Regions from separate parts of the Homo sapiens genome. Here region 2 is linked to region 1. The links come from fine-mapping of genetic effects on gene expression. A gene starts in region 1. The other region holds a variant in brackets. All regions are shown on one strand. Distances are between the middles of the regions. Region 1 holds the start of NOC4L (nucleolar complex associated 4 homolog). Region 2 overlaps EP400 (E1A binding protein p400).

What was found. PIP is the estimated chance that this variant, and not a neighbour inherited with it, causes the effect.
Region 2: its variant is fine-mapped to the expression of NOC4L in thyroid (GTEx, PIP 0.98). The same link has a PIP of 0.9 or more in whole blood.

The regions. Positions count from the first base shown.
Region 1 is chr12:132,140,370-132,156,357 of GRCh38, forward strand. NOC4L (nucleolar complex associated 4 homolog) reads left to right here and starts at 4,088. Exons shown (of 15, transcript NM_024078.3): 1 at 4,088-4,236; 2 at 4,485-4,605; 3 at 5,190-5,296; 4 at 6,912-7,019; 5 at 7,264-7,413; 6 at 7,511-7,610; 7 at 7,703-7,737; 8 at 8,240-8,290; 9 at 8,415-8,526; 10 at 10,612-10,672; 11 at 10,889-10,999; 12 at 11,115-11,275; 13 at 11,369-11,451; 14 at 11,715-11,828; 1 more. The coding sequence starts at 4,120. The coding sequence ends at 12,032. DDX51 (DEAD-box helicase 51) reads right to left here and starts at 3,950. Exons shown (of 15, transcript NM_175066.4): 1 at 3,624-3,950; 2 at 3,326-3,540; 3 at 2,359-2,509; 4 at 1,908-2,053; 5 at 1,750-1,821; 6 at 1,481-1,587; 7 at 1,129-1,237; 8 at 906-1,051; 9 at 462-651; 10 at 251-366; 11 at 54-170. The coding sequence starts at 3,927. RefSeq lists enhancers at 2,036-2,941, 3,871-4,170, 13,907-14,407 and silencers at 3,541-3,740, 3,811-3,860.
Region 2 is chr12:132,079,645-132,095,632 of GRCh38, forward strand. It overlaps EP400 (E1A binding protein p400), which reads left to right. Exons shown (of 53, transcript NM_015409.5): 53 at 1-816. It also overlaps the pseudogene EP400P1. Among named protein-coding and RNA genes, the nearest start is that of SNORA49, 56 kb to the left of the region's middle. RefSeq lists enhancers at 3,240-3,741, 5,158-6,018, 5,560-5,609 and silencers at 4,400-4,479, 4,500-4,949, 6,794-6,970. The variant T/A (reference allele first, on the strand shown) is at 4,466.

The DNA of each region.
Region 1 (15,988 bases):
CTGGAGTGGGCACCCCCACCCCACAGAGGCCTTGCCCCTGCCCAGGAACTCACAGCTGGATCTTCCCCTGTTCAAACTGCTTCAGGATCATCCTCCTCTGGCCAGGCCCGTAGCGCGAGGAGAACTCAGCCACGTCCACACCCCCAAAAGCTTGCACCAGCAGGAAGAGCCTAGGCAGAGAGAAGGCTGCGGCCAAGTGATGCTGGGACCAGAGGCCACCTCTGCCACCCCCGCCCAGCCGGGGCCTCACCTGTGGGAGTTCTCTCGGGAGTTAGTGAAGCAGAGAACCCTCGAGAAGCCCATCTCCAGGACCAGGTGCAGGACGACCAGCGGCTTAGAGCTGAGGCTGCAGGGCACGTAGTGGTGCTACAGGGACGGCAGGGGGTCGGGGTGGAGGTGAGGGTTGGTTAGGGGCCCCAGGTTCCCAGTGCAACCCTCTGCCCACACGGTATCCCACTCACCGTGAGCCCAACAGGAAAGGCATACTTCCCCGAATCCCCGTCCCCATCTGTATCTTCCAGGCCCCTGTGTGCTAGCCCTGTGGAGAAAAGCCGGGGCTGGTGGAGGCCCAGCTGCTGCAGCTTTTCAGGGTTCTGGGTCAGAGTAGCTGAGAAGAGCAGCTTCTGCAGGGGCATCTGGGGACAGCAGGTGCTGGAAGAGAAGGGGGTGTTGCTGGCACCCTACCAGTGGCTGCCCCGAACCTCCAGGGAACAGGATTCCTCATGCTACGCACTGTAGAGACTGCCGCAGACCAGGAGCAAGGTGGGTCCAGCTCACGTGACAGTACGATGCGGTTCTGTGCACCAGAGCTCAAGCCACCCTTATCTCTGGGCATTAAGGAAGGAGAGCTGTGTGCAGAGGACTCTGCTCAGGGGAGGCCAGCACCTGGGCGTGCTGCTGGATACCTGGCGGCTGTCACAGCCTGGGCCTGCCTTCGCTGGAGCAGGGCACAGGGGTCCGCGGGGTCCTCGCTCTGGAAGGCGGCCGCCACCACCCGCGGCAGCCAGGACTGATGCATGCTGTCAATCATCCGGTCAGCCTCGTCGATAATCTGCAGGAGACAGGGAGCCCGGGACTGGGTGGCGCGGCCCTGAGCTCAAAGCCCAGGCCCCTGGGGCGGGGACCTACCAGGAAGCGGAGCTGCTGGAGGCTGAATCCTGGGGTCTGGTCGATGTGGTCCACCAGGCGGCCGGGGGTGGCTACCACGATGTCAGCCAAGCAGCGGTACCCATCAGCTCTACAGACCAGAGAGCAGCTCGAGAGAAGGAAGCTTTCTCAAGGGCTTCCGGATAGCAAGACGCTGCCTCACCCCACAGCCCCGACTCCACCCCACATGGGAAGGGGGCCGGTGGGAGCTCCTCCTCTTCACGGGAACAGGTGGTTAAAGATGGTGGCCCCTCCTCTGCTCCCACGGTGCCTCAGGCCACCTGCAGGGCTGAGCAGGGACCCCCTGAAAAACCCGCACCCTGACACAACCTACGTTTTCTGGACGAGGCTCTCCTGCTCCTTGGCCAGAGACTTCTGTCCCGTAACCAGGGAGACTCTCAGAGGTGTGGCATCTGTGTAGATGTTGAAAACTTTGCTCACCTGCAGGAGAAGTCTGTCACTGGCCTGGAGGTAGCTGGTGTCCACCTACTGCAGCAAAAAGGACCCCAGATCTAATCTGGGTCCCCCAGGGGCTGATCGCTGTGCACTCAGCAGGGAAGCTGAGGCGGGCGGTGCCACGCTCCAGGTCTAGGGTCCACATACCTGCTGGGCCAGCTCCTTGGTGGGCAGCACAACCAGGGCACGGATGTGGCAGACCACTCTCGAAAGCAGGGCCTGAGGGGGAAGGAGCGCCTGCGTCAGCAAGGCTGTTACCTGTCCTCTGCACACCCGCTGTAGAGAAAGGGGACCCTCACACAGACCTGCACCACAGGGATGACGAAGGCCAGTGTCTTCCCACTGCCTGTTGGGGCAGAAACACAGAGGTCGCTAGGCCGGTAGCCACCTCTGCCCACCAGAAACCCACAGGCTGCGCTCTCCAGGAGGGCAGGAATCACAGCTGCCTGGACTGGATGAGGAAAGGCGAGAGAGAAGTCGTGTTTACGCCTAGGCCTAGGCCTGCCGCTTCCCTGCCTGTGACCTCTGGGCTGGGCTGCTCTGCTGGAGGCCTGGGAACCGCTCCCCAGAGGGATGGCACCAAGGCCCAGAGGAACGCCAGCCTCAGGAGACCCAAGTGGGAACCATGAGCTTGAGAGTGCTGAGACCACACTTGGCACCGATGTGGCAGGGACGCCTGACCCACGGCCACTCACAGCCTTGTGTGTGGGTGCCCAGGGAGGTGTTCCCTCAGCTGCCTGCCCGGGGCTGGGGCACCTGGAAAGTAGGACGAGATGCCGTGTGCCCGCAGCTGCTTCTGCAGGTCAGGATGGACGTCAGGGATGTCCTCGATAGGAACCAGGTCTTCGGTGACATTCCTTCTGACACAGTTAGGCTCAGCCAGCCACCTTGGCAGGAAAGGCTGGACCTGCCATCAAAAAGAAAGAGAGGCCAGGTGAGCGCTTTCCAGGCTCTCGCGCAGAAGCCCACGGTGGAAAAAGCTAGGGGAGGGAGGCTGGGGAAACCTCTGTCGTCTTCAGCTCCTTCTCAGCCCCAGGATGCGCTTTCCATACAGCCTTCAGAAGTTAAACAGTAAAAGCAGATGCCACTCCCTGAGCAAACTCACTCTGTAGCCTCCCATCAACCCACAGTGGCACCCACCCTCCCGCAGCCAGGAGGTCCTGTGACCTGGCGCTCGCCTGCCCCAGCCACGCCGGCGTCCCTGCCTCGAGGCCTCTGCCTGGCACCCCCAACCCCCAACCTTGACCTGGCTTCAAGTCTTTGCATCCCAACTCAAAGAGAACCTCCTCCACCTGCCCTACCTAAGGTGCCCGAGCACTCTGTCAAACTTCTCGCTTTCTTCACCTGTCTCGCCGGAAATCTCTTTACCGAAAACCACACGTGCTAAGCAAAAACACCAACGGTCAGGAGCTTGCAGAACGGCCTCTGACTTACTCCTGAGGCGGTGAGCGCACAGCAGGAAACCCCGCACGTTCACGCAAACACATCTTGCAGAACTGGCGCGGCGCGGCGGGAGGACAGGGGCAAGCCTAGCAGAGGAAACGGGAGCTCTGCACGTGCAGGATCCAGACCCCTAGGCGATGAAACTGCAGACCTGGCAGCGAGGCGCGGCTGTGACCCGGGAACATTCGCTGAACGAAATCTTCCGGGGCGACCGCCGCACTTAAGAATCCGCGCAGCCTACCCTCTCACGCCGACCACCCTCCCGCCCGCCGAGGCTCACCTTCGGCGCCTTCCTCTTCCCGAACCCCCCCAGCACCAGGCCGGGGACCAGGGGTCCGGCCGCCTCCTCCAGGGCCGGTCCATCTGGGGCCGCCTCGGCGCTGGCGCTGGTGCTGCGCTCCCCCGGCGCCTCCTCGCTGCTCCCTGCGCTGGGCTCCCCTGGCGCCTCCTCGCTGCTCCCTGCGCTGGGCTCCCCTGGCGCCTCCTCGTTGCTTTCTGCGAGGCAGACACCCACCCGGCAGCGCGTCAGCACCGAGTCGCCGGCGCCCCAGAGGGAGCCCGCTCGCCCCGCGGCCCACCTGCGCCCGCGTCCTCGCCGTCCGCCTTCCGTCGCTTTCCCTGCGGCGCCTCCGGGCTCCCCGGCTCCGCGTCGTTCACCCGCCGCCGCCGCCGGGGCCGCCGTCGCCTCCTGGTCGCCGGCTCGGTCGATGCAGCCGCCTCGGTCTGCGCGGGCTCCCGCTGCTGCTGCCGTTCGCGGGCCCGGCTCTGCAGCCGCTCGAGCAGCGCGCGGGCCCTGCCGTGCGCCCCGGCCTCCGCGCCCTCCGGCCCCGCCGCAGCTGCCGCATCGGGGCCCGGGTACCGCGCGACGTAGAACAGCGCCATGGCCAGCCGCACGCCTGGGACTCGGGCGTGGCGCGCTGCGATGACGTCGGCGGCACGCCTGCGACTCGGGCTCCGCGCAAAAGATGGGGTTGGGGTACGGCGCGTAGAGATGACGTCGGGTTCTACGCGCAGTGGTGACGTCACGGGAGCGCCGGCGGCTGAGAATCCGCGTTGTTCCGTGTTGGGGGCGGCATGGAGCGGGAGCCGGGCGCCGCGGGAGTTCGCCGGGCTCTGGGCCGCCGGCTGGAGGCGGTGCTGGCGAGCCGCAGTGAGGCCAACGCCGTGTTCGACATCCTGGCCGTGCTGCAGGTGGGCCTGGCGGCGTCGCAGGGCCGGAGTCGCGGCACGGGAGCGGGACTTGAATGGGGGGCTGCGGCGGCAGGTCCCCAGGAGGTTCCGAGACGGCGTTGGGGGGTCAGGGTGGGAGGCGTGTGGGTCACGGGTCGGGGGTGACGGGGCTGGCGTCCCGAGGGGGAAGGGAACGGGTTGGGGGCAGCCTAGGCAGGGGCGAAGGTGACAGTTGGCGGCCGGGCACCCTGCCGCCGCCTCTCCTGCAGTCTGAGGACCAGGAGGAGATCCAGGAAGCAGTCCGCACGTGCAGCCGTCTTTTCGGGGCCTTGCTGGAGCGGGGAGAGCTGTTTGTGGGCCAGCTGCCCTCTGAGGAGATGGTCATGACAGGTGAGCCCTGGAGGGCCCCGGGGCTGCTCTTCTCTTTCCGTGGGTCGGAGGGAGGCTTTGTCACCATGGGATGAGCGCCCCCAACCCTGGCACAGGCCGTGCAGGCTGGTGGGAGGACGCACCAAGCCCACCGTGGAAGATGGATGGTGGCGTTGGGGCAGGGGTGACATGGGTGCCCTGCAGCTGAGTGTAGATGAACACTGGACAAGGTACGACTTTTTGTGTGCTTTGCACCCCTTTTGTAATTTGATGTTGACTGATCCTGACACGGTCGCTTAAACTCGGAGCTTCCTTTATGTCCCCATCCTGGGGACGTCAGGTCTTGGAGTAAAGAGAGGGGATGTGGATCCTGCTCCTGGCAGCTTGGCTGGGGCAGTCCTGGGGTAGGAGGTGCTCTTCCTGTTTGCAGGGCTCAGGGAATGTGCTGGTCTCAGCACAGGTCTGGGGGCCTTAGCGACCTGTTTCCACCTGCGGAGGCTGAGTAGAAGACAATGGGAGGGTGGAGCCAGGCCTGAGATTTTGGGCTGGGCCCAGGGTGGCGTATGTGGGCCTCACGTGGGCTGACCACCCTAACCTGTCTGCAGGGTCCCAGGGAGCCACACGGAAGTACAAGGTGTGGATGAGACACCGCTATCACAGCTGCTGCAATCGCTTGGGAGAGCTCCTGGGCCACCCCTCCTTTCAGGTCAAGGTGGGTCATTGGGCTGGCCTCATCCTTGTCCATCCCCTGCACCCCAACTCCCAGGTTATCCACAAAGCAGAGGTCTGGGGCTCCCACAATTGTCCAGGCAAAGCTGCTTCCTTCATGGGAGCATCACCCTGTGGGTGTTCAGTCCCATTCAGAAACATGGCTATCGAGTCCTGTAGTGAATATTGAAGACGCAGAATCCGTGTTCATTTCCAGTGGCATCCACGGGGATCTCTGTGTTTGCATAGAGCACGCACACCAAGCCTCGTGCCAGTCCACAGATGTGTTTGCTCAGATCACACTGTGGTCTGCAGCCATGGGAATGCATTATGAGCTTTCTTAAAATCTGTAGTGAGGAATAACTGAGGCACAGTTTACCGTTTAAAGCTGAGAAGTTAGCATCTGTTACTGTGTTGTGCAGTGGTTGCCGCTATCCCAGAACATCTTTATCGCCCCGAAAAGAAATCCTGTACCAGTTACCATCGCTTCCATATCCCGCCCCTTTCCACCCCCAGCCCCAGGCAGCCACTCCTGGATCAGTGGTTACTTCCTGGATCAATGGGTTTGCTTTTTTTAGACGCTCCTCATAAGGGGGATCATACGGTATGTGGCTTCTTCCACTCATCGGCGTGTTCGAAGTTCGTTCTCTTTGTGGCTGAGTAGCAGCGCGTCGTATAGCACAGCACGTATCGTTCAGCCGCTCGTAGGTTGCTGGGCATTTGCGTCGTTTCCACCTTTGGCTGTTACGAACAGCGGACTGTGAACGTTCGCGTACAAACTCTTGTGTGATGTTTCTTTTGCTTGAATATGCCTTATCAGTGGAATTACAAGGCCACACAGCAGCTGTGTTTTTAATGTTCTGAGGAACTACAAGACTGTTTTCCATAGTAGCTGCGCTATCTTACCCTCCCCCTGGCAGCATTTGAGAGTTCCATACTCCACATCCTCGCCAACACGTCTGTCTATAATTATAGCCGAGCTGCAGACTTTTAAATGTTGGGGAGATACCACGTGAAAATAACCAGTTTCCACCTTCTCAGAAAGAAATAATCAGTTCTGTCAACACGGGGTCTAAGTTTGTTCATGGCTGCGATTGGCTGGAGGGAGAGTCAGAGACAGCTCTGAGACAGCCGTGTGCTCCTGTCATCCCGCACGAGGCTCTTTTGCTTTGTGGTGTCATTTGCCTGGGCCCTGAAAGCACTGAGTTTGCCACCCCGAGATGAGAGCTTCCAAGCCTGGGTCTGAGTTGGGCACCATGCTGGCATCACACGCCTGTGTTTTCACAGCTGTTCCCAAGGGTTATGGTGGCATTCCCGTGACACAGGTGACGAGAGAGCAGTCAGGTGGCCCATAAAGCAGACCTGGGCTGTGTACCCTTCCCCCGCCAGACTCTGTCGTGAGCACTGGATCTCTTTAACTAGAGATCTTGTCATCTCTACGTCATGGGTGGGACACGGAAGCCCAGAGTGGCATCTGGTGGCGTGTGGAGCAAGAGAAGGCCCGGCCGCCCTTTTCTCAGCTCTGGGCCTAGATGGGAGGGGCTCCCTGACTGGGCTGAGCTCTGGGCCCATCCGTGGGGTGAGGGCATCACAGCCACCCTGCACTGCCCCCTTCCCAGGAGCTGGCCCTCAGCGCACTCCTGAAGTTCGTGCAGCTGGAAGGAGCGCACCCCCTGGAGAAGTCCAAGTGGGAAGGCAACTACCTGTTCCCCCGAGAGCTCTTCAAGGTGAGGGCCTTGCTGGGGACTCCCAGAGGGCCTGGCTGGCTGGCCAGATCCCAGGATGGCCCCGTAGTGGGGGCGGGGCCTGCTGAGCTGAGCCTGGCTGTTGGCTGGGACACTCCTGTGGCTCCTGTGGCCCACCCAACCAGGAGGAGTCTGCCTGGGGGGCTCGATGGGGCAGGGCTGCCTGCCTGGACCTTGCTGGCGTATGCTGGGCCGGGCAGGGCTGCTCACTGGTCCTTGCCCCTAGTTGGTGGTGGGAGGCCTGCTGTCTCCTGAGGAGGACCAGAGCCTGCTCCTGTCCCAGTTCCGGGAGTACCTGGACTACGACGACACCCGCTACCACACCATGCAGGCAGCCGTGGATGCCGTGGCCCGGGTCACTGGCCAGCACCCCGAGGTGGGTGATGGGGTCCTGTCGCCAGCATCATGCTGTTGCCTCCCAGGGAGGCAGGGACTGGGGGGCGGCGTCCAGGCACTCAGGCCAGGCTCCGCAGGTGCCCCCCGCCTTTTGGAACAATGCCTTCACGCTGCTGTCTGCCGTGAGCCTGCCCCGCCGGGAGCCCACCGTCTCCAGCTTCTATGTGAAGCGGGCGGGTGAGTGTGCTGAGAGTCAGGGGCGGACAGGGCTGAGCCTTGGTCTGCCTCCCCTGCGGGTCAGGTGACCTTTGCCCTCGCTTTCCCTGCAGAGCTGTGGGACACCTGGAAGGTTGCTCACCTGAAGGTGAGTTGCTTCTGGAGAGCCGGGCACCCTCCCGGGTTTGGGGGTGTGTGTGGGGTGCATGTGAGACCCCATGGAGGCTGCCGCCTTCCTCACCAGAGGAAACTCCCAGGGTACAGGTGGCAGCTTGCACGGCCACCAGGTCACTCGAAGTGTGGGAGGTGACGAGACCTGTGAACTCGGGACCCTCCCTTGGGTCAGAGGCCACCGCCGCCTCTTGGAGTCAAGCCTCTGGTGCCACCTGTGGGCCCCGTGGGCTGTTTTGGGCGCAGCCCCCCTCTTGGCCATGGTCTTGCCAAAGCTGCTTTCTTGGCTGTTCTGAGACTCCAGCCTCGAGGGCAAGGCGTACCTGACTTGAATGGGGACAGGAAGAAGGAAGGCAGGGTCAGAAAAGTGGAGAGCAGGCTTGTGTTGGCTCAGGCTGGGCTTCGGGGTGCCCTGGCAGCTGCTCGGGCTCTGGTCTGGGGTGGGGAGGGCGGCGAGTGCAGTCTGGACCCCGTTGCAGGAGCACAGGAGGGTTTTCCAGGCCATGTGGCTCAGCTTCCTCAAGCACAAGGTAGGGGCCAGGCCGGGGAGGGGGCGGGGGCGGCATCCGGGTCTCCCCCAGGGCGGAGGCCTCACCCCGACCCGCCGGCCCCCGCCCACCCGCCCCTCACCCCCACCTGCCGGCCCCCGCCCAGCTGCCCCTCAGCCTCTACAAGAAGGTGCTGCTGATTGTGCATGACGCCATCCTGCCGCAGCTGGCGCAGCCCACGCTCATGATCGACTTCCTCACCCGCGCCTGCGACCTCGGTGAGTGCCGCCGCCTCGCTCACACCACACCCCTAATCCCCTCGGTGAGTGCCGCCGCCTCACTCCTACCACACCCCTAATCCCCTCGGTGAGTGCCGCCGCCTCACTCCTACCACACCCCTAATCCCCTCGGTGAGTGCCGCCGCCTCACTCACACCACACCCCTAATCCCCTCGGTGAGTGCCGCCGCCTCACTCCTACCACACCCCTAATCCCCTCGGTGAGTGCCGCCGCCTCACTCCTACCACACCCCTAATCCCCTCGGTGAGTGCCGCCGCCTCGCTCACACCACACCCCTAATCCCCTCGGTGAGTGCCGCCGCCTCGCTCACACCACACCCCTAATCCCCTCGGTGAGTGCCGCCGCCTCGCTCACACCACACCCCTAATCCCCTCGGTGAGTGCCGCCGCCTCGCTCACACCACACCCCTAATCCCCTCGGTGAGTGCCGCCGCCTCGCTCACACCACACCCCTAATCCCCTCGGTGAGTGCCGCCGCCTCGCTCACACCACACCCCTAATCCCCTCGGTGAGTGCCGCCGCCTCGCTCACACCACACCCCTAATCCCCTCGGTGAGTGCCGCCGCCTCGCTCACACCACACCCCTAATCCCCTCGGTGAGTGCCGCCGCCTCACTCACACCACACCCCTAATCCCCTCGGTGAGTGCCGCCGCCTCACTCACACCACACCCCTAATCCCCTCGGTGAGTGCCGCCGCCTCGCTCACACCACACCCCTAATCCCCTCGGTGAGTGCCGCCGCCTCACTCCTACCACACCCCTAATCCCCTCGGTGAGTGCGGCCGCCTCACTCACACCACACCCCTAATCCCCTCGGTGAGTGCGGCCGCCTCGCTCACACCACACCCCTAATCCCCTCGGTGAGTGCCGCCGCCTCGCTCACACCACACCCCTAATCCCCTCGGTGAGTGCCGCCGCCTCGCTCACACCACACCCCTAATCCCCTCGGTGAGTGCCGCCGCCTCACTCCTACCACACCCCTAATCCCCTCGGTGAGTGCCGCCGCCTCGCTCATACCACACCCCTAATCCCCTCGGTGAGTGCCGCCGCCTCACTCACACCACACCCCTAATCCCCTCGGTGAGTGCCGCCGCCTCGCTCACACCCCTAATCCCCTCGGTGAGTGCCGCCGCCTCGCTCACACCACACCCCTAATCCCCTCGGTGAGTGCCGCCGCCTCGCTCACACCACACCCCTAATCCCCTCGGTGAGTGCCGCCGCCTCGCTCACACCACACCCCTAATCCCCTCGGTGAGTGCCGCCGCCTCGCTCACACCACACCCCTAATCCCCTCGGTGAGTGCCGCCGCCTCGCTCACACCACACCCCTAATCCCCTCGGTGAGTGCCGCCGCCTCGCTCACACCACACCCCTAATCCCCTCGGTGAGTGCCGCCGCCTCGCTCACACCACACCCCTAATCCCCTCGGTGAGTGCCGCCGCCTCGCTCACACCACACCCCTAATCCCCTCGGTGAGTGCCGCCGCCTCGCTCACACCACACCCCTAATCCCCTCGGTGAGTGCCGCCGCCTCGCTCACACCACACCCCTAATCCCCTCGGTGAGTGCCGCCGCCTCGCTCACACCACACCCCTAATCCCCTCGGTGAGTGCCGCCGCCTCGCTCACACCACACCCCTAATCCCCTCGGTGAGTGCCGCCGCCTCGCTCATACCACACCCCTAATCCCCTCGGTGAGTGCCGCCGCCTCGCTCATACCACACCCCTAATCCCCTCGGTGAGTGCCGCCGCCTCGCTCATACCACACCCCTAATCCCCTCGGTGAGTGCCGCCGCCTCGCTCACACCACACCCCTAATCCCCTCGGTGAGTGCCGCCGCCTCGCTCACACCCCCAACCCCCACCCCGCAGCACCTCTTCCCCGATCCCACTGCCTCCACCCCCCACTCCCCTGCCCTGCATGTGGTCTCCAGCTTTGTGTCCGTGGGGGCTGTGGGAGGGGACAGCAGGGGCAGAGGCCACACTCCACAGACTTACACTCAGTGTGGGCAGGGGGTAGGGTGGGAGCGAGGTCACTGCAGCTCCAGCCTGTGTCTGTCTGTCTGCAGGGGGGGCCCTCAGCCTCTTGGCCTTGAACGGGCTGTTCATCTTGATTCACAAACACAACCTGTGAGTGTCACCAGGGGTGCAGGTCTTCTTCCCAGTCTGCCCAGCCCTGCTCCTCTGTCCCCTTCCCACCCTGCCCCACGGGGTCCCCGCTTTCCTCACAGGCCATGGTGTTGGAGTCCCTGGGCGGGAGGAAGGGGCGCCGAGTGAGACCCTGGCCTTGGAGGCCTCAGTTCCCGGGCCCTGCTCCATCCGCTGCTCCTTCCCCCCGGCCCGCAGGGAGTACCCTGACTTCTACCGGAAGCTCTACGGCCTCTTGGACCCCTCTGTCTTTCACGTCAAGTACCGCGCCCGCTTCTTCCACCTGGCTGACCTCTTCCTGTCCTCCTCGTGAGTACCAGGGCACCTGGCTCTGCCCTGCTCTGTGCGGCTGCAGCCTGGGGCCAGGGGAGGGTGGTGGGGGCTAGCAGTCCGGGCCCTGTCTCACAACCACTGCCCTGCCCAGCCACCTCCCCGCCTACCTGGTGGCCGCCTTCGCCAAGCGGCTGGCCCGCCTGGCCCTGACGGCTCCCCCTGAGGCCCTGCTCATGGTCCTGCCTTTCATCTGTAACCTGCTGCGCCGGCACCCTGCCTGCCGGGTCCTCGTGCACCGTCCACACGGCCCTGGTGAGTTGCGGGGCCCTCGGAGGCTGGGCTGGAGCTGGGGCGGGGGTGCCTGGTGCTGTGGACGGCAGACAAGGGCCCACGTCTCATTCCTAGAGTTGGACGCCGACCCCTACGACCCTGGAGAGGAGGACCCAGCCCAGAGCCGGGCCTTGGAGAGCTCCCTGTGGGAGCTTCAGGTGAGGGCGCTGCTGCCACACCCTGGGGCCTCCCGAGCCATCCTTCGGCCCCTCAGAAAGCCCAGCTCCCCGTGCCACCTCCCGCATAGCCTCATGTTGCGTCCCCAGCTGGCCACCTGGGTTTGTGGGTGCTGGGTGCTTGGCCTTCTCACGTGGCTCCGTCCCGACCCCGCCCACTCTGGTTGGGAGCACAGGGAGGCCATGGCTGGGGGCACAGGGCGGGGGCCTGGGGCAGCTGCCTCTTAACGGCCCTACTGCCCCAGGCCCTCCAGCGCCACTACCACCCTGAGGTGTCCAAAGCCGCCAGCGTCATCAACCAGGCCCTGTCCATGCCTGAGGTCAGCATCGCGCCACTGCTGGAGCTCACGGCCTACGAGGTGCGGAACTGGGCCAGGGTGCGAGGGTCTGGGCCACGGGGCGCTGAGCCAAGCCTGAGAGCCGCCGTGCTTTGTGCTTTGCAGATCTTTGAGCGGGACCTGAAGAAGAAGGGGCCCGAGCCGGTGCCACTGGAGTTTATCCCAGCCCAGGGCCTGCTGGGACGGCCGGGTGAACTCTGTGCCCAGCACTTCACGCTCAGCTGACCCTGGCCCACCTGTGAATAAATCTCAGCTGACCCCAGCCCACCTGTGAATAAATGTTTTTGCAGGAGAAAGGCTCAGGGAGTGTGGACTGGGGCGGCTGGATGCCTCTGCCAGGCCGAGGGCCTCACATCTGCCTGAGCCCACCAGGCACATGGCAAAGCGAGGCCCCTGCCGACTCCACAGCCTGGGAGGGGATGGTGGGGAACCTGAGGCGTGGTCTTTCCCAGGGCCTCCGGCCCACCAGTGTCACCGGTCACCCAGCCTCCCTCATCCCCTGGCCCCAGTGACCTCCCTGTTGGCAGAGCTCGGGGCCTCTGCTGAGGTTACACTCCAGACACCTGGGAGGGAGCAGGGTTGGGGGGGTTCTCTCTGCCTGGGTCAGTTGTGGTGGGAGGTGTATGGTGGTGTAGACGGGTATGGTGTGTGTGGGAGTGAGGGGAGGTGGTGTGAGTGGGGGGTCAGTGTGACTGGGGGGAGTTTGGTTGTGAGTGGGGGTGTTGGTGTGAGGGGAGAGTTGGTGTGAATGGGGGGGTGGTGTGTGTGGGGGGTGGGTTAGGATTAGTGTGAATGGGAGGTTGGTTTGAGTGGGGGGTGTTGGTGTCAGTGGGGGGTTGGTGTGAGTCGGGGGTTCCTGTGAGTGTCAGCATCCCACGCTGGCTGTGTCCTGCCGATCTGGCCTTCGTTCTGGGAGCCCCGCGAGGCCCCGGGTGGATGCCGCGTGGAGTTCTGGGTGGATGGTGCGTAGAATTCCGGGTGGGTGCTGTGTAGAGGCCCCGGGTGGATACTGCGTAGAGTTCCGGGTAGATGCTGCGTAGAGTTACAGGCAGTGCCTGGGCCCCTCTGGAGTTCCCTGCCCCCACCCCCGTGGGAGGCCCTGGTCCAGCTGCAGTGGAGTTTCCCCCGCTGTGGGAGGCGCTGGTCCGGCTGCAGCACAGCCTTGTTATCGGGGTGTTTATTTTTAGGGAACCAAATTTATACCAAACAAACTAGGTTTTCTGTCTACACAGTGACCCCCAGTTTCCTTTTGACAGTCTGCTTATTCGAGGACAGGGTGGGATGGGGCACTGGAACAGAGCTTGGTGCGCGTGGGTGTGGCTGGGGAGGGCGGGGAGTGCCTTGGCCGTGGCTTGGGGGTGTCACCCTGCCGGCCCAGCATTGGCCGGGACCCTCCGTGTGCCCAGCGGGGTTTTGGGGGGCAGAGTGATGGTGGAGATGTTGCCTCTGCTCCCAGCATCCCCCTGGCTGCTTCCCTCTGCCCCAGCGGGCTCCTCAAGTGAACTGGCTCCTGCCCCAGGGCCTTTGCACCAGCCACAGCTGTGGCCTCTGCCGCTTTTCCCTGTGTTGCCCTGGTTTGAACGTCCCGTCCCCGTCCCCCCGGGAGGCCTTCCCTGGTACCCCGTGCGTGGTAGTCCTGCACAGGCGCCCCTCCTTCCCCACTCTTCATGCTGTCCCGCCCGAGCCCTCTCAGCACTCCCGCTGCAGCAGGGCAGACAGGGCCCGTCCTCTTGCTGTGTCCCAGGCAGCCTGTCACACCGGGTACGCTCCAGAGCCCTGGCCCCCCTCCCCGCCCTCCTTGGGCTCCTGGGGCAGGGCTGGGCCTAGGTGCTGGCATCCTGAGCTCATGCGGCCACCAGAGGCCGCTGCAGCCTTGCCCAGGCCTGCAGCGCCCGAGCTGCCCTGCTAGGTTTCACCTCGCCGGGGTCTGCAGTATTTCCTGCTCGGATTCAGCCAGGGCCTCCCTCCTGACATCACGGAGGGTTTGTGCTGGGCTGTTAGGCGGATCTCGGATGATGGGCGAGGCCAGGAGGAGAGTGAAAGCGCCTCCGAGTCAGCCAGGCTTGGATTCTGTCGTCAGAGGGGCTCTGTGTCTAGCAACCTCCACGTAACCGTGTTCGGTCCTCTGCTCCCTGTGTTCCCCGCATGAGCCGGGCATGAACAGGGACCTCCTTCACCGCCTGAGGTCCCCTCTCCCTGGCTGGTGACCCCCATCTCTGAGAGCACGGGGACGTCCCCTGTGCTGTGGAGGAGCGTGTGCTCTCCGAGATCCAGGTGCTGCCCCCGAGGAGCGCATGCCCTCTGAAATACAGGTGTTGCCGCCATCCCCGAGAGCACGGGGACGTCCCCTGTGCTGTGGAGGAGCGCCTGCCCTCCCAGATCCAGGTGCTGCCCACCAGGCGGTGTTAGGAGTGCCTCGTCCGCAAGGGCGCCATCCTTGTTAATGGGATTCAGGCCTTTGTAAAAGTGGATTCTTCACGTGGTGCTGAGCCGGCTGCTCTCTGGCCTTTGGCCTCCTGTCAGGTTGGGCGCAGCCAGGAGGCCCTCGCTAGAGGCTGGTGCCTTCATCCTGGACTTCCCGGCCTGCGGAACTGGAGAGAAGACAGTGTCACTTTTTAGAAGTTACCTGCTCTCAGGTAACCTGTAACAGTGGTGCAGACGGACTGAGACACCGTCAGTTCCAGAATCTTAGAGAAATTCCAGGGGCCCCTTCAATCACCTATGAGGCCAATACCCAGCCGGCACCTGCGTGTACCCGGCGGTGTCCTCACTGCACACGGAGAACAGCGCCGCACCAGTGGGGCCTCTCTCCCCCTGTGCTTCCCCCGCTCCCTCTCTGTCTTGTCTCTCCCTCTCCTCCCGTCCCCCGATTCCGGGTCTCCCTTCAGGAAATGAACGCGGCTGCCGGACAGTGAAGTCACAGCTACATCCGTAATGAGGGATAGCTGAAGAGCTGTGGAGCGCGCGTTCCGGCGATAAGGGACGCTGGAGCGTTTAATTGGCGTTGAGGAAATCAGCTGCGGAGAATCAGCAGTCGTTTCCCGAGCGTCGGTCGTGCTGGGAGCTGTGGCGAAGGCCCCGGCGGTAAGCGATTCCCGCTGGACAGCGAGGAGCGTGTCCGTTCCCTGCGGTGTCTGGGTCTTCCCCCACTGGGGCCAGCAGCCCACGGTGAAGGCCATGCCGGTCTCCAACGGCGCGGGCTCCACTCCCGGCTGGGAGGGTGGCACGGCCCCAGGCCTCAGTTGTCCCATCTGCAGAGTGTGCTGCCAGGGTCTATGCTCAGAAAGTGACTTCAGAACGTAGCGGTGTGGAACTGCAGCAGCACTGATTTCGCTCGTGAACCTGCAGTGTGGACTTGGTGGGGACGGCTCGCCTGCACTCCGGGTGGCAGGAGGTAGAGTTGGGTGTTGGGGGCTGGGGTCGTTAGAGCTCACCATGCAACATGACACACACCGCTACATACACACCACTACACACACTAGATACACCACTACACACACCACTACACACACTACACACACCACTACACACACACACTACACACACTACACCACTACACACACCACTACACACACTACACGCACACAGTACACACACCACTACACACACTACACGCACACAGTACACACACCACTACACACACTACACACACCACTACACACACACACCACTACACACACTAGATACACCACTACACACACCACTACTCACACTACACGCACAGTACACACACCACTACACACTACATACAAACCACTACACACACTACACACACACACCACTACACGCACACACTACACACACCACTACACACACACTACATACACCACTACACACACCACTACACATACTACACACACAGTACACACACCACTACACACTACATACAAACCACTACACACACTACACACACACACCACTACACGCACACTACACACACCACTACATATACCACTACACACACCACTACACACACACTACATACAAACCACTACACACACCACTACACACTACATACCACTACACACACCACTACACACACTACACGCACACACTACACACACCACTACACACACACACTGCATACACCACTACACACACACCGCTACACACTACACGCACACAGTACACACACCACTACACACACACTACATACAAACCACTACACGCACACTACACAC
Region 2 (15,988 bases), 61 kb before region 1:
TCTAAAACACTACAAGAGAATTTAACACCATCTCTCAAATGCTTTTTTGGAGAGCTTAATGGGATTCTGAATATTTGCAATGTGGAGTTTCCGCCCCGATCTCACGTCAGTGAGGGTCTCCTGTCTCTCAAGTGTGTTTCCTTTGGCTGTTCCCTAATACAAAACACGGACATATTTTTACTCGTAGCACTCAATTTAGTAACTTCTAGATGCTACCGTTGACCTGAGTTAAATTCATTTAGTCGTGTACGTAAAAACTCTCCTTTTAGTGTGTTATTTTCTTGGCCTTCCCTTTTAAAGGTTAAAGTTTCTAACCTAAGAATTAAGTACGCGTTCAGGAAGCTGTTGTCTAGGCCTTCCCCTTGTGAATCTGGGTTCATTCCAATACGGCAAGTAAGAGTTGGAAACTTTGAGAACACAGACTATAAAGGCAGCAGCCCGAACACTGTCAGACTCTAATTGGCGACCCTGGGAAACAGTTGCCCTGCTATTCTTTAAAGAAAGACGTTTATTCTGATGATAAAAACAGTTAGCCAGACTGTTTTTAAAGCACCTGGCGGGAAGCAGAAGGTTGGATCCAAGCCCTTGTTCAGATTTGGTGCCTGATAAGACAGGGGTTTCTCTTTTTGTGACCTTTATTATTATTATTTTGTTAACTGTTGTAACCAGTTAGCTGTTGTGTTTTAAGATAGAAAGGAACAAGACTAAAATTGTAAATACTTTGTAAACATCAGCATTTGTACTTGAATAGTAGGATTTTAAAGGGCATTGATAGCATACCAAACAAAAGGCAAAATAAAGTGACCTTTTTATATATTTTTTCATTTTGTCTTTCATAGAAAACTGGTATTTAAGTTAAATGAGATGCTGAATTTTTCATTTGTGTGAAGAAAAAACCAACAAGTAATGTTGGAGCCAGAGGTGTTCCCCTCACCCACTCTTCCGTGGCCATAGAAGGACCTGGAAGGAACAGAAATCACATTCACCAAGTCCACCAGGCAGCCGCTTCCCAAAGCCGCACGTGGAGGAAAGAGCTGGCACCGCCCTGCCCCATGTGGCCTGCCACCCTCACAGCACCCGTCGTCAATGTCCTGGGGGCCACACTGGCACCAGTGTCCTTCCACACCCAGTCTGTGTGCCCAACTGGCACCAGTGTCCTTCCACACCCAGTCTGTGTGCCCAACTGGCACCAGTGTCCTTCCACACCCAGTCTGTGTGCCCAACTGGCACCAGTGTCCTTCCACACCCAGTCTGTGTGCCCAAGTAAGGGCAGGGACACCGGCTCACAGGTGCTCACCACCGAAAACGCCTGTGAGCAGATGGCCTGCGAGTTGTTGCTTCTCTTTTTCTTCTGCTTTTAGACTTTTCTTCGTTTCGTTTTAAATCTGATTACAAAAATCAACGTACACTTTTAATTGAAAACGCACACATTACGCAAAGTAAAGAAGCATCCCAGAAGCCCCTTAGTTTCTGTATCTTTTCTCCCACCACAAAAACGGGGGTGCACGGGCACTTGGCCCTGCAGCTTTGGGCTTCCACCTCCGGTCTTCCAGATTGAAAGCTCCCAGGGTCTGGTTGCACACTTCGTGTCTGCAGGTGATAGTGCAGATACCAGGGTGGGCGAGAAAGCCAGCTGCAAAGCCCGGCTGGTGCTCCCTGGCCTCTGGGGGTCTGTACTGCAGTGCCTGGTGCACCTGCGGCTCCATGCCTACCAGCCACATAACCAGGGGCAGGTGACTTCCTCCTTCAGGGCCTCTGTGTCCCCATGTCCCCTCTCCTAAGGTGGCTTGAGGATCCAGTCCAATGTTGGGTGCTGCACTTGGTGTCTGTCTTTTATACTCCCAACGAAGAGGACTGCAGGTTTTGCAAAGCCTACTGTTTCTGTCATCCTGACCCTACCATCACGTCTTTGCCAAGTGTGCCTGTGGCAGCAGGCCCTATGGCGGGCTTATCTGGCCTGGAAGCTGTGTTTCTGTTTGCTGTCCAGTAGCGACCAGGGGCCAGTGGGTGAAGCAATTGTGCCTGCGCACAGCCGTCAAGACCTTAAGGTAGCTTCTGAGCCCGGAGTGTGTTGTGTCACCTCCTACTCGAGATGTCAGATCGTGTGACAGCTGCCCACCAACACCCCAGAGTTGGGCATTGTGATCCAGGGCAATGGGAGGGGAGATTCCTTTGCCATAGGGTGCCCTGCTATGCTGTTGCTGCAGCATCTATTCCCCTAATTTTTCTAAAGTTCCCATTTTATTGGGTAGATTATGCTATATACATTCGGTGGAATGCAGTGCAGCCTCTACAAAGTACAGCTGTGCTGGGGGATGAGTTTGTGAAGTATGCTACCAGGATGGAACTGGTTGTATGCCTGGATGTGCATAGAATATCCTGGAAGTATTTGCCCCTGCATGTGGTGGATTCTACGTCCATGAGTTCAACCGACCAAGGAGCAAAAATATTCAGAAACAAAAATGTGTCTATACTGAACATATACAGACCTTGTTTTGGGGGGGTTATTATTTCCTAAACAATGCTGCATAACAACTATTTACATGACATTTACATTGCATTCACTATTGTAAGTAACCCAGAGATGATTTTAAAAAGATGTTTTTGAGTTATATGCATTTTGCATCAGGGGCTTGAGCCTCTCGGAGTTTGGCATCCATGGGAGGTGCTGAGGGACGATTGTACGTTGTGTTAGCACTGCCTCTGTGGAGGGAGAGACTGGGGGGCAAGGATCAAGGCTGCTGATCTGCACTGTTATGCGCGTCCTTTTAACTGTTCAGGTAGTTTGCCAAGTGCATGAATTTTTGTGTGGTGGGGGCGGGGTGGGGGTGGGGACAGTCTCACTCACTCTGTCGCCCAGGCTGGAGTGCAGTGGCGTGATCTCAGCTCACTGCAACCTCTGCCTCCTAGGTTCAAGCGATTCTCCTGCCTCAGCCTCCCAAGTAGCTGGGATTACAGGCGCGCACCACCATGCCTGGCTAATTTTTGTATTTTTAGTAGAGATGGGCTTTCACCATGTTGGCCAGGCTGTTCTCGAACTCCTGGGCTCAAGTGATCCGCCCGCCTCGGCCTCCCAGATTGCTGGGATTACAGGTGTGAGCCACCGCACCCGGCCATGAATTAATTTTTAAAATAAGGCCCTATCAGCTTTTTTGTCACATGGTCCCCTACTCGGGAACCTTTATTTCCGACCTCCTGCCTGATCTTGTGTAGCCACCTACACTCCGACCAGCCCCCAGAGCAGCATCGTTCTGCCCCCTGTGCAGCCTTTCCTGTCTCCCTGACTTTGTGCTCGTCTCCTTTGTTGTAAAGTATTTCTCCTACTTTGAAGACTACTCCCACTTAACTAAGTGTGCATCCATTCATTCATTCATTTATTCATTTCTCCCCAGTGTTCTCCTCCAGTAGTATCTTGGGCTGAACAACAGTATTTGTCTTATTTCTCCAGCTGTAGTGTGGCTCTGTTTTATCCCTATTCAATGAATATTTAATGTAGCATATTTCATGCCAACTTTACCACTAGTGCTGGAGTGGCGGAAGGACAACACTTGGCTGTTTAAGAAAATCAAAGCTGGCCGGGCACGGTGGCTCACACTTGTAATCCCAGCACTTTGGAAGGCCGAAGCGAGCGGATCACGAGATCTGGAGATCGAGACCATCCTGGCTAACACCGTGAAACCCCGTCTCTACTAAAAATACAAAAAATTAGCCGGGCGTGGTGACGGGCGCCTGTAGTCCCAGCTACTGGGGAGGCCGAGGCAGGAGAATGGCGTGAACCCGGGAGGCGGAGCTTGCAGTGAGCCGAGATCGCGCCACTGCACTCCAGCCTGGGCGACAGAGCGAGACTCCGTCTCAAAAAAAAAAAAAAAAAAAAAAAAAAAGCTGATCAGAGAGATGGATGAATTACTGGTTTATTCAGCTGTTTATAAAGTACATACTATGTGGCAGTTTAGACAACTAGGCTATACTTGCCAGCAAAATAAAAAAGGGGGTTGCATCCTAGCAGGTCAGATAAAATAATTCAGGGGATAAGTACCATGAAGAAATGGACAGGTGGTAAGTGATACGGGTTTCACTCTTAAATAGATGGGCAGGTTATGCAGTGGAAGGCGCCTGATGCACAGCTCCAAAGCTCACCCGTCTACAGTGGACACGACGAAACCAGGGACATGTCCCACCATTTCAGTGGTCACAGGCAAGAGTCTTGTGGATCTTCGGATCCCACGTAACATCTCATCTCCCTAGGCACCCCGACTCCCCTGCCCAATTTAAAACAGACCTCAGCCTGCCCCATCCCGGCTGCTTTGCCTGGTGCTCTTCTAACTGCATGTTTATCTATCCTCCCCGCCTAGACTGTAGGGCCCGCGAGGGGAGCCGCTAGCTGTGCTTGTCAGTGTGACCAGCGCTCAGCAGGTGTCCGGCGGGAGGGCGGGCAAATACAACTCAGTGCCCACGTGCGAATGAA[T/A]GAACAAACTAGTTCCGGGCGGAGCCAGAGGCGCGCGCCGGCGCGGACCGAGGCCCGGCCCTATCCGCCCCGCCCCCTCCGCCCCGCCCCCTCCGCCACGTCCCTCCGGGTCCGCTGGGCGCTGATTGGTCCGAGCCTCGCCTGCGCAGTGCCGGGCCGGCTCCCGCGCTTGCGCACTGGCTCCGCGTCGGCCGGTCGGTTTGGTCGGTTGTAGTGGCCTCGCCGCCCGGTCCGCTGTCGCAGCGCTCATCCGCGCCGGGAGCCCTTGGCTGCGTCGCCCGGCAGCCGCGGTGAGTGACGGCCCGCGTATCCGCTGCCGGGGCTGTGGCGGGCGTGAGGGGTTGGCCCTACCCTCGGCCCCCGACCGCCCACATCCGCCGGTTACCCTCGAGGCTCCCCGGCCGCGCGCTCCCCTCTCTCCGTCCCATCACCCGGTGACCCCGGCTGAGCGAACGCCCACCCCTCCCTCAGGGACCCCCTCCCCGTGACACGATCCCCCGTGAACGCCCACCTCCCTCAGTGAACACTCCCCCGTGACATGACCCCCCGCAAACGCCCACCCATCCCTCGGTGACCCTGCGCCCGTGAGCGCCCACCCCTCCCCCTGCGACCCCTCCCCCCGCCACCTGGCAACTGCCGTTTTCCCGCCTTCCCTCCTCCGCCCCCTCTCCCGCATCACCCCGTTTTCTGGTGACCGCTCCCCCCCATCCCGTGACACAAACCCCCGACCTCCCAGCCCTTCCCCGGTGACACGATCCCTGTGACCGTCTGGCCCGGTAACCGCCCCTCCCCTCATGACCCTTCACCCAGTCCCCTGGTGCCCACCCCCGTCACTGCCGCCCGCCTGGTTCCAGCCTCGCGAGACCGCTGTCTACGGCGCTGACGCCGCCTCTGCCTCTTGACCCCTTGGCCCCGCTGTCCTGATCCCTGAGGTCGGGGCCTGGTCTGCACTCCAGGAAAGACGAGTGCGCTTAGTGTGCGCTGCACGTGAGCAGTGAAGTTGATTCCACGCGCTGCGCTGCTCGGCAGCTGTCCCAGAACTGACCACGGACCCCTCCGCGGGTCCTGCTCCTGACAAGGGCCTTCCGGCACTGGGAGTTTTGTGTTAGTGGAAAGGAAGAATCTAATAATACCACCACCTTTACAGTAAAGACGCTGCGAATTGACGCCTTTTATAATAAAGACACTTATCTTGCCCAAGAGCTGGGTGAGTATTTCCTCCTTACCAAAAAGTTGGTTTACTTACAGTTAACTGGCTGAAAGTTTGAGTCTTAGGCTTATTTGTGCCGCTCCAGGCAGGCTGATTGGCGCTGGTTTCCATCTGTCAGATTGGACAGCAGTACCACTGGCTGTTGGGGGCTCACGACCAGATAGAGTCTTGTCTGGGAACCACAAGTGAGTGTTGTTACCACAGCTCTGCAGCAGTGAGGGCACCTCTCAATCCACGTGCAGTCGCCCCACCTTATCTTCAGGGGATACGGTCCAACACCCTCAATGGATGCCTGAAATCAAGGATAGTAGTGAACACTATATACACTGTTTTGTTATGCATCCTTCCATATCTACGATAAAGTTTAATTCATAAACTAGGCACAGGAAGAGATTAATAACAGCTAATAATAAAATAGAACAGTCGTAACAATATACTGTAATAAAAGTCATGTGAAAGTGATGTCTCTCTCCTAAAATATCTTACTGTATTGTACGCACATGTTTTTGAACTGCAGTTCACCGAGGGTTACTGAATCCATGGATAAGGGGAGATTACAGCAGTTTCTTTTCTGACTATGTTATTGAGACTTCAAAACTAACTAAATTGTTCGTTGAATGGAATTGTCCAAGGTGTACAAAATGACAGTTGTAACACAAAGGTGTTTCACTGACATCCCTGTCACGTTTTTGCTAAACTAATGCACTTTTAAAAATTATTATTTATGCTGGGTGTGGTGGCTTATGCCTGTAATCCCAGCACTTTGGGAGGCTGAGGCGGGCAGATCACCTGAGGTCGGGAGTTCGAGACCAGCCTGACCAACATGGAGAAACCCGTCTCTACTAAAAATACAAAAAAAATCAGCCAGGTGTGGTGGTGCTTGCCTGTAATCCCAGCTACTTGGGAGGTTGAAGCAGGAGAATCGCTTGAACCCAGGAGGCGGAGGTTGTGGTAAGCTGAGATCACACCACTGCACTCCAGCCTGGGCAACAAGATCGAAACTCCGTCTCAAAAAATATATATATTACTTATAAAAGTCTGTACTTCATGTTCAGTCACAGTAGAGACAAGTAGAAACTCCCTCCTTCAACAATACCTAGCACTCAAGGAGAGATGGCCTTACAGAGTCAGCATGTGGTGCAGAGGTCTCTTGGCCATGATTTTAGGTCCTCCTGGGTCCACATCGTCCCACCTGGCCATGGATACGTTGTCATCTGATCTGTTCACTGTTAAGGTAACAGTTGTCATAACTACTACAAAATGGTTAAGTGTTAGGACTTTAATGATGGTGATCATGTAATAAAGGGCCTGGAGGATAATGGCATGCTTACGAATTTTCTGGGTGGTATTCACATGTTTGAAAAAGCATTGAAATGTATGATTTTGGGTGATGACTCTGAGAAGTATGGAGCATGACCCATTTTGAATAGGAGAACAGAATGTTGTAAAGTGATTCTTGGTCCCCTAAGAGTCCATTGACAACCACCATGTAGAGGAAAAATGGCAAAGAATGGGCTCTCTCCAAAGTCAGGTGCTGAGGCCCTTCTAAGGAGGAAAAGCCAACGCCCTTTCACTGTGGTTTCCAGCTGCTACAGGAACAAATAGTGTCTATCTGTGTCCAGCTTATTTTTTGACTTCTTTGAGTCTGAAGATACTTTGAAAAACTTTGATTTGCCAGAGTAATTTTTTGTACCTTGGAATGAGCCATATTTTTAATTTGCTTTTTGATGTTACAAAATGTACCCTCATAAGAATTCAAACAATACAGAAAAATAAGTCCTTTTCAGTCCTTTTGTGCTGTAATAACACCCTCCATCTTTTTTTCCATTTCAGTTAGTAATATGTCTTCAACATCTGCTCATGTCAGGAAATAAAAATTTATTCTCTTTTTTTTTTTTTTTTTTGTTTCGAGACGGAGTCTCGCTCTGTCGCCCAGGCTGGAGTGCAGTGGCGCGATCTCAGCTCACTGCAAGCTCCGCCTCCCGGGTTCACGCCATTCTCCTGCCTCAGCCTCCCGAGTAGCTGGGACTACAGGCACCCACCACCATGCCTGGCTAATTTTTTGTATTTTTAGTAGAGACGGGGTTTCACTGTGTTAGCCAGGATGGTCTCGATCTCCTGACCTTGTGATCTGCCTGCCTCAGCCTCCCAAAGTGCTGGGATTACAGGCAAAAATTTATTCTTTTTATGTTTACATAATAGTCCGTACTGAGGATACAACATATTTAGTCAACCATTCCCCATTGATGGATTTCATTTTGTGTCTGTTTTTTTGCCACAGTTTGTACTGAGAGACACATTCCTATGCATGGGTCCTGACACTTTCTTTCATTTCTACAGGCTAGATTCCCATGAAGGGGAGCTAAATGGTGTTAGTGGGTCAAAGGGTATGCATATTTAACATTTAAATTTCAATAGTTATTGAGAGATCTATTCCCAAAGTTATAGCAAAGTTACATTCCTGAAGCCATGAAGGGGAGGACGCTTTGCTCCCGTCTGACATACTGCCTGTTGAATGGGTGCTGCCATGTCCTGCTGGCGCCGTGTGCTGCACTTCGTGGACTGGCCCATTGGCAGTGCCTCTTCTGAAGTTTTCCATTGTGTTCTTCCCCATTTCCTGGAGAGGTTTCCTTTTCTTTTCTTTTCTTTTTTTTTTTTAACTATTTTATAGTAGCTCTTTTTTGAGATGGAGTCTTGCTGTGTCGCCCAGGCTGGAGTGCAGTGGTGTGATCTCGGCTCATTGCAACCTCCGCCTCCCAGGTTCAAGTGATTCTCCCGCCTCAGCCTCCAGAGTAGCTGGGATTACAGACGGGCACCACCACACCTGGCTAATTTTTGTATTTTTTAGTAGAGATGGGATTTCACCATATTGGCCAGGCTGGTCTCAAACTCCTGACCTCAAGTGATCTGCCTGCCCTGGCCTCCCAAAGTGCTGCACTTACAGGTGTGAGCCACCGCAACCAGCCAAACTCTTTGGATAACAGGGATATTTACCCTTTGAAGTAATAAAATATTGCATGTATTTTTCTGCTAATTATTTTTTGTCTTTTGATCTTGTTTAAAACATCTTTTATGTAGTCATGTATTTTTTCCTTTACAGCATCTGGGTTTCCTGCATTACTTATTAAGAAGCTTTCACCACCTCGCAGTTGTAGAGATAGTCCCCGAAATATTATTCCAATAAAGTGTTTTCCTCCTTTCCTCCCTGCCTCCTCTTCCTTCCTTCCAGGATAACATTTAGTTCTTTATTCTGACTGAAATGGTATGAGGTAGGGGTGTTTTCCTCCTTTCCTCCCTGCCTCCTCTTCCTTCCTTCCAGGATAACATTTAGTTCTTTATTCTGACTGAAATGGTATGAGGTAGGGGTGTTTTCCTCCTTTCCTCCCTGCCTCCTCTTCCTTCCATGATAACATTTAGTTATTTATTCTGATTGAAATGGTGTAAGGTAGGGGATAACCTTTTCCCCCCTAGATGCTACTACCATTTCTTTTTCTTATTTTAATGTAATTAAAAATTTTAAAGGAAAGTTTTTTGAAACAGAGTCTCACTCTGTCACCCAGGCTGGAGTGCAGTGACACAATCTTGGCTCACTGCAAGCTTGATCTCCCGGGCTCAAGCAATTCTCCCACCTCAGCCTCCTGAGTAGCTGGGACCACAAGTGCACAGCTAATTTTTGTATTTTTAGTAGAGACAGGGTTTTGCCCTGTTGCCCAGGCTGGTCTTGAACTGCTGGCCTCAAGGGATCTGCCCACCTCAGCCTCCCAAAGTGCTGGGACTACAGGCGTGAGCCACCATGCCTGGCCTTAATTTTTAATTGATAAATAATTGTTGTATATATTATATATTTATGAAGAACGTGATGTCTTAATGTGTTTATATTACAGAATGATGAAATTGTGCTCATTAACAAACCCATCACCTCACACACCATTTTTATGTGGTGAAAATATTTAAAATCTACTCTTTCAGAAATTTTGAAATATACAATGCATTCGTATTTATTATAATTATCATCCTCTGCAATAGATCACTAAAACTTACTCTTTCTATCTAACTGAAATTGATCCCTTTGATCAATATCCCCCTTCCCTTTTTCCCCCACCCCCCGGCCCCAGTAACCACTGTTCTCTCTGTTTCTATGAGTTCAACCTTTTTAGATTCCACGTGTAAGTGAGATCATGTGGTATTTATCTTTCTGAGCCTGCCTTATTTTACTCAGCACAGTGTCCTCCAGGCTCATCCATGTCCTTGCAAATGACAGAATTTCCTTATTTTTTTAATGGCTGTATACTATTCCTTTGTGTTGTATATATACCACACTTTTTAAAATCATTCATCTGATGATGGGTACCCAGGCTACTGTGAATAATGCTGCCATCAACATGTGAGTACAGATAACTATTCAACATCCTGATTTTGTTTCCTTTGGCTGTGCACCCAGAAGTGGGATTGCTGGATCATATCTTCATTCTATTTTTATTTTTTTGAGGAAGCTTCGGACTGTTTTCTATAATGGCTGTACTAATTACATTCTTACCAACAGTGCACAAGGGTTCCCCTTTCTCCATATCCTCGCCAACACTTAACTATCTTTTGTCTTTTTGGTAATAGCTATCCTAGCAGTTGTGAGGTGATAATCTCATTGTGGTTTTGCTTTGCATCTCCCTGATGGTTAGTGATGATGAGCCTTTTTTCATGTATTTGTTGGCTATTTGTATATCTTCTTTTGAGATATGTCTATTTAGGTCTTTTGCCCATTTTTAAATTAGGTTGTTTTCATGCTATGGAGTGGTTTCAGTTCCTTATATATTTTGGATATTAGCCCCTTATTAAATGTATGGTTTGCAGATATTTTCTCCCAATGCCACTACCATTAAAGTATCTATACATTTTTAATCTTTTTCCTTTTTCTTTCCTCTTTTTCTTTTTTCCATAAAAACCTGTTGGCTTTTGTATGTTTATCTTGATTACAGACACTTCACCGAATTCGAAGTATTCTTATAAGTTTTTGTCTCGGATTTTGTAGGCATGGAATTATATCATTTGCAAATAAAGATAATTTCAGGCTGGGCATGGTGGCTCACACCTGTAATCCTAGTACTTTGGGAGGCCAAGAGCATGCTACTTTTTTTTAGTTTAAACTTTAAATTTTTATGGCTACACAATAGCTGTATATACCTACATTGCTTTTTTATTACAGAAGCTCTAGAATAAGTATGACTATTTTCCTAAGTCAGGAATTCTACTATTTTGTTTTTCTTTTATTTTGTCAGTATTCTTATGTTTTTCAAAAAAGCACTGTCTCTTTAAAAACATATCACTTCATTGAGCTTTAAGCTAATTTTTTTCTTATTTCTAAAGCAAAACAAAACCCAAACTCATTGTAATCCTCTTTGGAATTGCATTACATGTATATGTTCAGTTGTGAAGGCATGACATTTTATGATAGTAAATCTTATTCTGGAACATGGTATGTTGCTTCATTTTATTCGTGTTTTTTTGAGACGGAGTTTTGCTTTTATTGCCCAGGCTGGAGTGTAGTGGCGCAATCTTGGATCACCACAACCTCCGTCTCCCAGGTTCAAGCGATTCTCCCGCCTCAGCCTCCTGAGTAGCAATTACAGGTATGTGCCACCACAGCTGGCTAATTTTGTTTTTTGTTTGTTTTTTTTAGTAGAGATGGGGGTTTCTCCATGTTGGTCAGGCTGGTCTCGAACTCCCAACCTCAGGTGATCGCCCGCCTTGGCCTCCCAAAGTGCTGGGATTACAGGTGTGAGCCAACGCACCCGGCCTTATTCATGTATTTTTTAATGTTCTTTACTAACATTATATAGTTTATTTCTCTTCTTGGTAAATGTACTTCTTGGTAAATGTACTTCTTGGTAATGTACTTGGTAAATGTACTTGGTAAATGTACACTGGTATTTTATAGTTTTTGTGGCCTTTGAATGGGACATCTTAAAATTTCCATTTCAGTTGTCTATCGCTGACATAAAAAAAAAGCCTGTTGATTTTTGTATATTTATCTTGATTGCAGGCACCTCAACAAAATTGTTATTCTTTTTTTTTTTCGAGGCCGAGTCTCACTCTGTCGCCCAGGATGGAGTGCAGTGGCGCAATGTCGGCTTACTGCAACCTCTGCCTCCCAGGTTCAAGCGATTCTCCTGCCTCAGCCTCCAGAGTACCTGGGATTACAGGTACTCGCCACCACACCTGACTAATTTTTTGTATTTTTAGTAGAGACGGGGTTTCACCATGTTGGCCAGGCTGGTCTCAAACTCTTGACCTCAGGCGATCTACCCACCTCAGCCTCCCAAAGTGCTGGGATTACAGGTGTGAGCCATTGTGCCTGGCCAAATTGTTATTCTTACAAGTTTTGGTCTCGTGGGTATTGTAGGCATACAATTATATCATATACAAATAAATATAATTTCAGGACAGGTGCGGTGACTCATGCCTGTAACCCCAGCACTTTGGGAGGTTGGGGCAGGAAGATCACTTGAGCCCAGGAGTTTGAGACCAGCCTGGGCAACATGACAAAACCCCGTCTCTACAAAAAATTAAAAAATTAGCCGGGTGTGGTGGGGGGCGCCTGTAGTCCCAGCTACTTGGGAGGCTGAGGTGGGAGGATCACTTGAGCCTGCGAGGTCGGGGCTGCAGTGAGCCAAGATTGTGCCACTGTACTTCAGCCTGGGCAACAGAGTGAGACCCTATCTCTAAAAAATATATATGTAAATAATAATAATAAATTATATTCCCTTCCCTCATTACTTAGTTCATGTTTCTTTTTATTTTTAACTGCTAAAACCTCTGTTGAAGTGCTACATAGAAATGGTGACATTTGCATCCTTGTGTTCCTGATTTAATGGAATTAGTTTCTGCATATCAACATTTAATATGATTATTGCTGTTGAGTTTTGGGAGCTAGTTTTTAAAACATTATGTTCAATTTGTTTCCTTTGATATGTGTTTTACTTTGAATTATTATTCAGAAGAACTGCTAAATTTTGTATCATTTTTTTCATTTAGTGGCTTTTAGCTTTAAAATGATGGTGAAGTTTGTAGATTTCCTGATATTGGCCCACTCCCTGAATTACTGGACTGACTCCCCTTTGTCAGTGTGTTTTTCTTTGAGTGTATGCTCGGTTCTATTTATGAATTTTTAAAAATAATTTTTATACCACGCATATGCAAAATTCTTATAAGTTTATTGCTTTTTTGTACTGTCAGGTTTGGGTATTAAATGCTAATTTCGTAAAGTGAATTAGAGAGATTTCTATTTTTTCCATAAACTTGAAATATTTAAATAGCATAGGAATTACTTGAGCTTTAAAGGTTAGAGCTCAGTTAAGTAAAATTCCATTGTCTCTTAGAGTCTTTTAAAACAATAGATATTTAATTTTCTTTTTGATTTTTTCTTTTTCTTTTTCTTTTTTTTTTTTTTTGAGACGGAGTCTCGCTCTGTCGCCCAGGCTGGAGTGCAGTGGTGCGATCTCAGCTCACTGCAAGCTCCGCCTCCCGGGTCAACGCCATTCTCCTGCCTCAGCCTCCCGAGTAGCTGGGACTACAGGCGCCCGCCACCACGCCCGGCTAATTTTTTGTATTTTTAGTAGACACGGGGTTTCACCGTGTTAGCCAGGATGGTCTCGATCTCCTGACCTCGTGATCCGCCTGCCTCGGCCTCCTGAAGTGCTGGGATTTCAGGCGTGAGCCACCGCGCCTGGCCCATTTGTCTGTTTTTATTTTTTCTTTTTTCATTAATCAGACTTGCTTGGACTTTATCCATTTTATTTATTTTTCCCAGAGAATCAGTTTTTGGTTTAATTTAGCCTTTCTACTACTTTTGTTTGTTTGTTTCATTTTGTTGTTTTCAGTTTTTGTATACTTTCTTAAATTGAACACTTATTTTCAGCCTTTTATTTTGATAATAAAAATACTGAAAGCTGTAACTTTTTCTTAAAGTACAGCTTTGTTTCCCATAGGTTTTAAAAGAGAAATACTCTATATTTTGTTTGTTTTTTTAACTTTCTAGAGAAGTTCGTAATTTCATGTTTAATTTTTTTTGGTTCAGATATTATTTAGTGGTTTTTAAAAACTTCCAACTACTCTTTGTCATTTTTATGATGAATTTCTAGTTTTATGAATTTGGCATCTAAAATATAATTAATTTGTTATGTATAACCTTCATTTTGGGGACTTAATGCATATTTTATTTATGGCCTATAAAAATTTCACAAGTACAAAGTTGTTTGTTTGTTTGTTTGAGACCGAGTCTCGCTCTGTCACCCAGGCTAGAGTGCAGTGGCGTGATTTCAGCTCACTGCAACCTCCCCCTCCCAGGTTCAAGTGATTCTTCTGCCTCAGCCTCCCGAGTAGCTGGGACTACAGGCATGTGCCACGACGCCCGACTAATTTTTGTGCTTTTAGTAGAGACAGGGTTTCACCATGTTGGCCACGCTGGTCTGGAACTCCTGACCTCATGATCTGCCCACCTCAGCCTCTCAAAGTGCTGGGATTACAGGCGTGAGCCACCGTGCCTGGCCAAGTACAAAGTTTTATAACAAGCATATTACTTATTTTGTTGCGTTGTATTCCATTCTTTATTTTTGTCCGATTTGATCAATCAGGTTTTGAAAGAGGTGTTTTACAGTCGTTCATTCTAAGTGGGTTTTTTTCTTTTTTTTTTTGGTTTTGGTTTCAAAATCAGGTTGTCCTAGGAAATTTTGTTTTCATGCATTTGGTTGCTATAATGTTGGTTTATAAAGATTTATGTATGTCATGTATAATTTGTGAGTTTAAACTTTTTAAAATTGTATTAGTGTATTTTAGAGACAGGGTCTTGCTCCGTCACCCAGGCTGGAGTGCAGTGGCATGATCATAGCTTACAGCAGTCTCCAGCTCCCAGGCTCAAGTGATCTTCCTGCCTCAGCCTCCCAAGTATCTGGGACCACAGGTGCCATCACATGCCCTGCCGAGTTGCAGCTTTAATCGGGACATAAGGCTTCTTTTTGTCCTGTTCTATGTGTTTGCCATGAATTTTGTTTTGCTTAATGTTGACTGTACTACTGTGGCTCTCGGAGAGAGGGGGCAGTTGAAAATCTTGCCAGGTGTCCTTGGGACTGGGTGTGCCTGGCTGGACGCAGAGCTGCTTGAGAGGGGCTGACTGTGGCCGGCGCTTCTGGGCCTGAGTGTGTCCTCTCCAGCTCCCCTGTGCCCACCTTTGTTTCACGCAGAACCTTCCTCAGCGGGTTCCACAGCTGAGGCTGGCCGCCTCCAAACGGGGTCCCCGCCAGTTGCAGGCTTTGAGCCATGCCTCTGCTGCTTGTCCTGGGTTCCCTTCTGCCATCACCCTCAGGAAGCCTCTTCTAGAGGAGTGTTCCAGCTGGCTCTGAGACTCTGTCTCCTGCCTCGCCGACCATCAGGCAGACTTGAGTGCATTCCCTTTACCTATTTTGTTTGGTGGCCCCGGTCTGCAAAAGACCCTCCCCTCCCCCCTCCCCTCCCCTCTCCTCTCTTCTCTTCTTTCTTTTGATGGAGTCTTGCTCTGTCGCCCAGGCTGGAGTGCATTGGCGCTATCTCAGCTCACTGCAACCTCCGCCTCCCAGGTTCAAGCGAATTCTCCTGCCTCAGCCTCCAGAGTAGCTGGGATTACAGGCATATGCTACCACGCCCAGCTAATTTTTGTACTTTTAGTAGAGACTGGGTTTCACCATGTTGGCCAGGCTGGTCTCGAACTCCTGACCTCAAGTGATCCATCCATCTCAGCCTCCCAAAGTGCTGGGATTACAGGTGTGAGCCACCGTGCCCAGCCTTGTTTTTTTCTTTTTCTATCCAACTTATCTTTTAAAAAATTTTATTCAGCCTTTCTCTTCAGGAAACATCTTTTTCTTTTTTCTTTTCTTTTTTTTTTTTTTTTGAGATGGAGTTTTGTTCTTGTTGCCCAGGCTGGAGTGCAGTGGTGCAATCTTGGCTTACTGCAACCTCCACCTCCCAGGTTCAAGTGATTCTTCTGCCTCAGCCTCCTGAGTAGCTGGGATTACAGGCATGCGCCACCACGCCCGGCTAATGTTTTGTATTTTTAGTAGAAACGGGGTTTCTCCGTGTTGGTCAGGCTGGTCTTGAACTTCCGACCTCAGGTGATCCGCCCACCTCGGCCTCCCAGAGTGCTGGGATTACAGGCATGAGCCACCTCGCCTGGCTTTGTTTTTCTTTTTCTATCCAACCTATCTTTTAAAAAATTTTATTCAGCCTTTCTCTTCAGGAAAAATCTCTTTTTATATTTCAATTGGTTTATATTCTGTTAGCCTCATCCT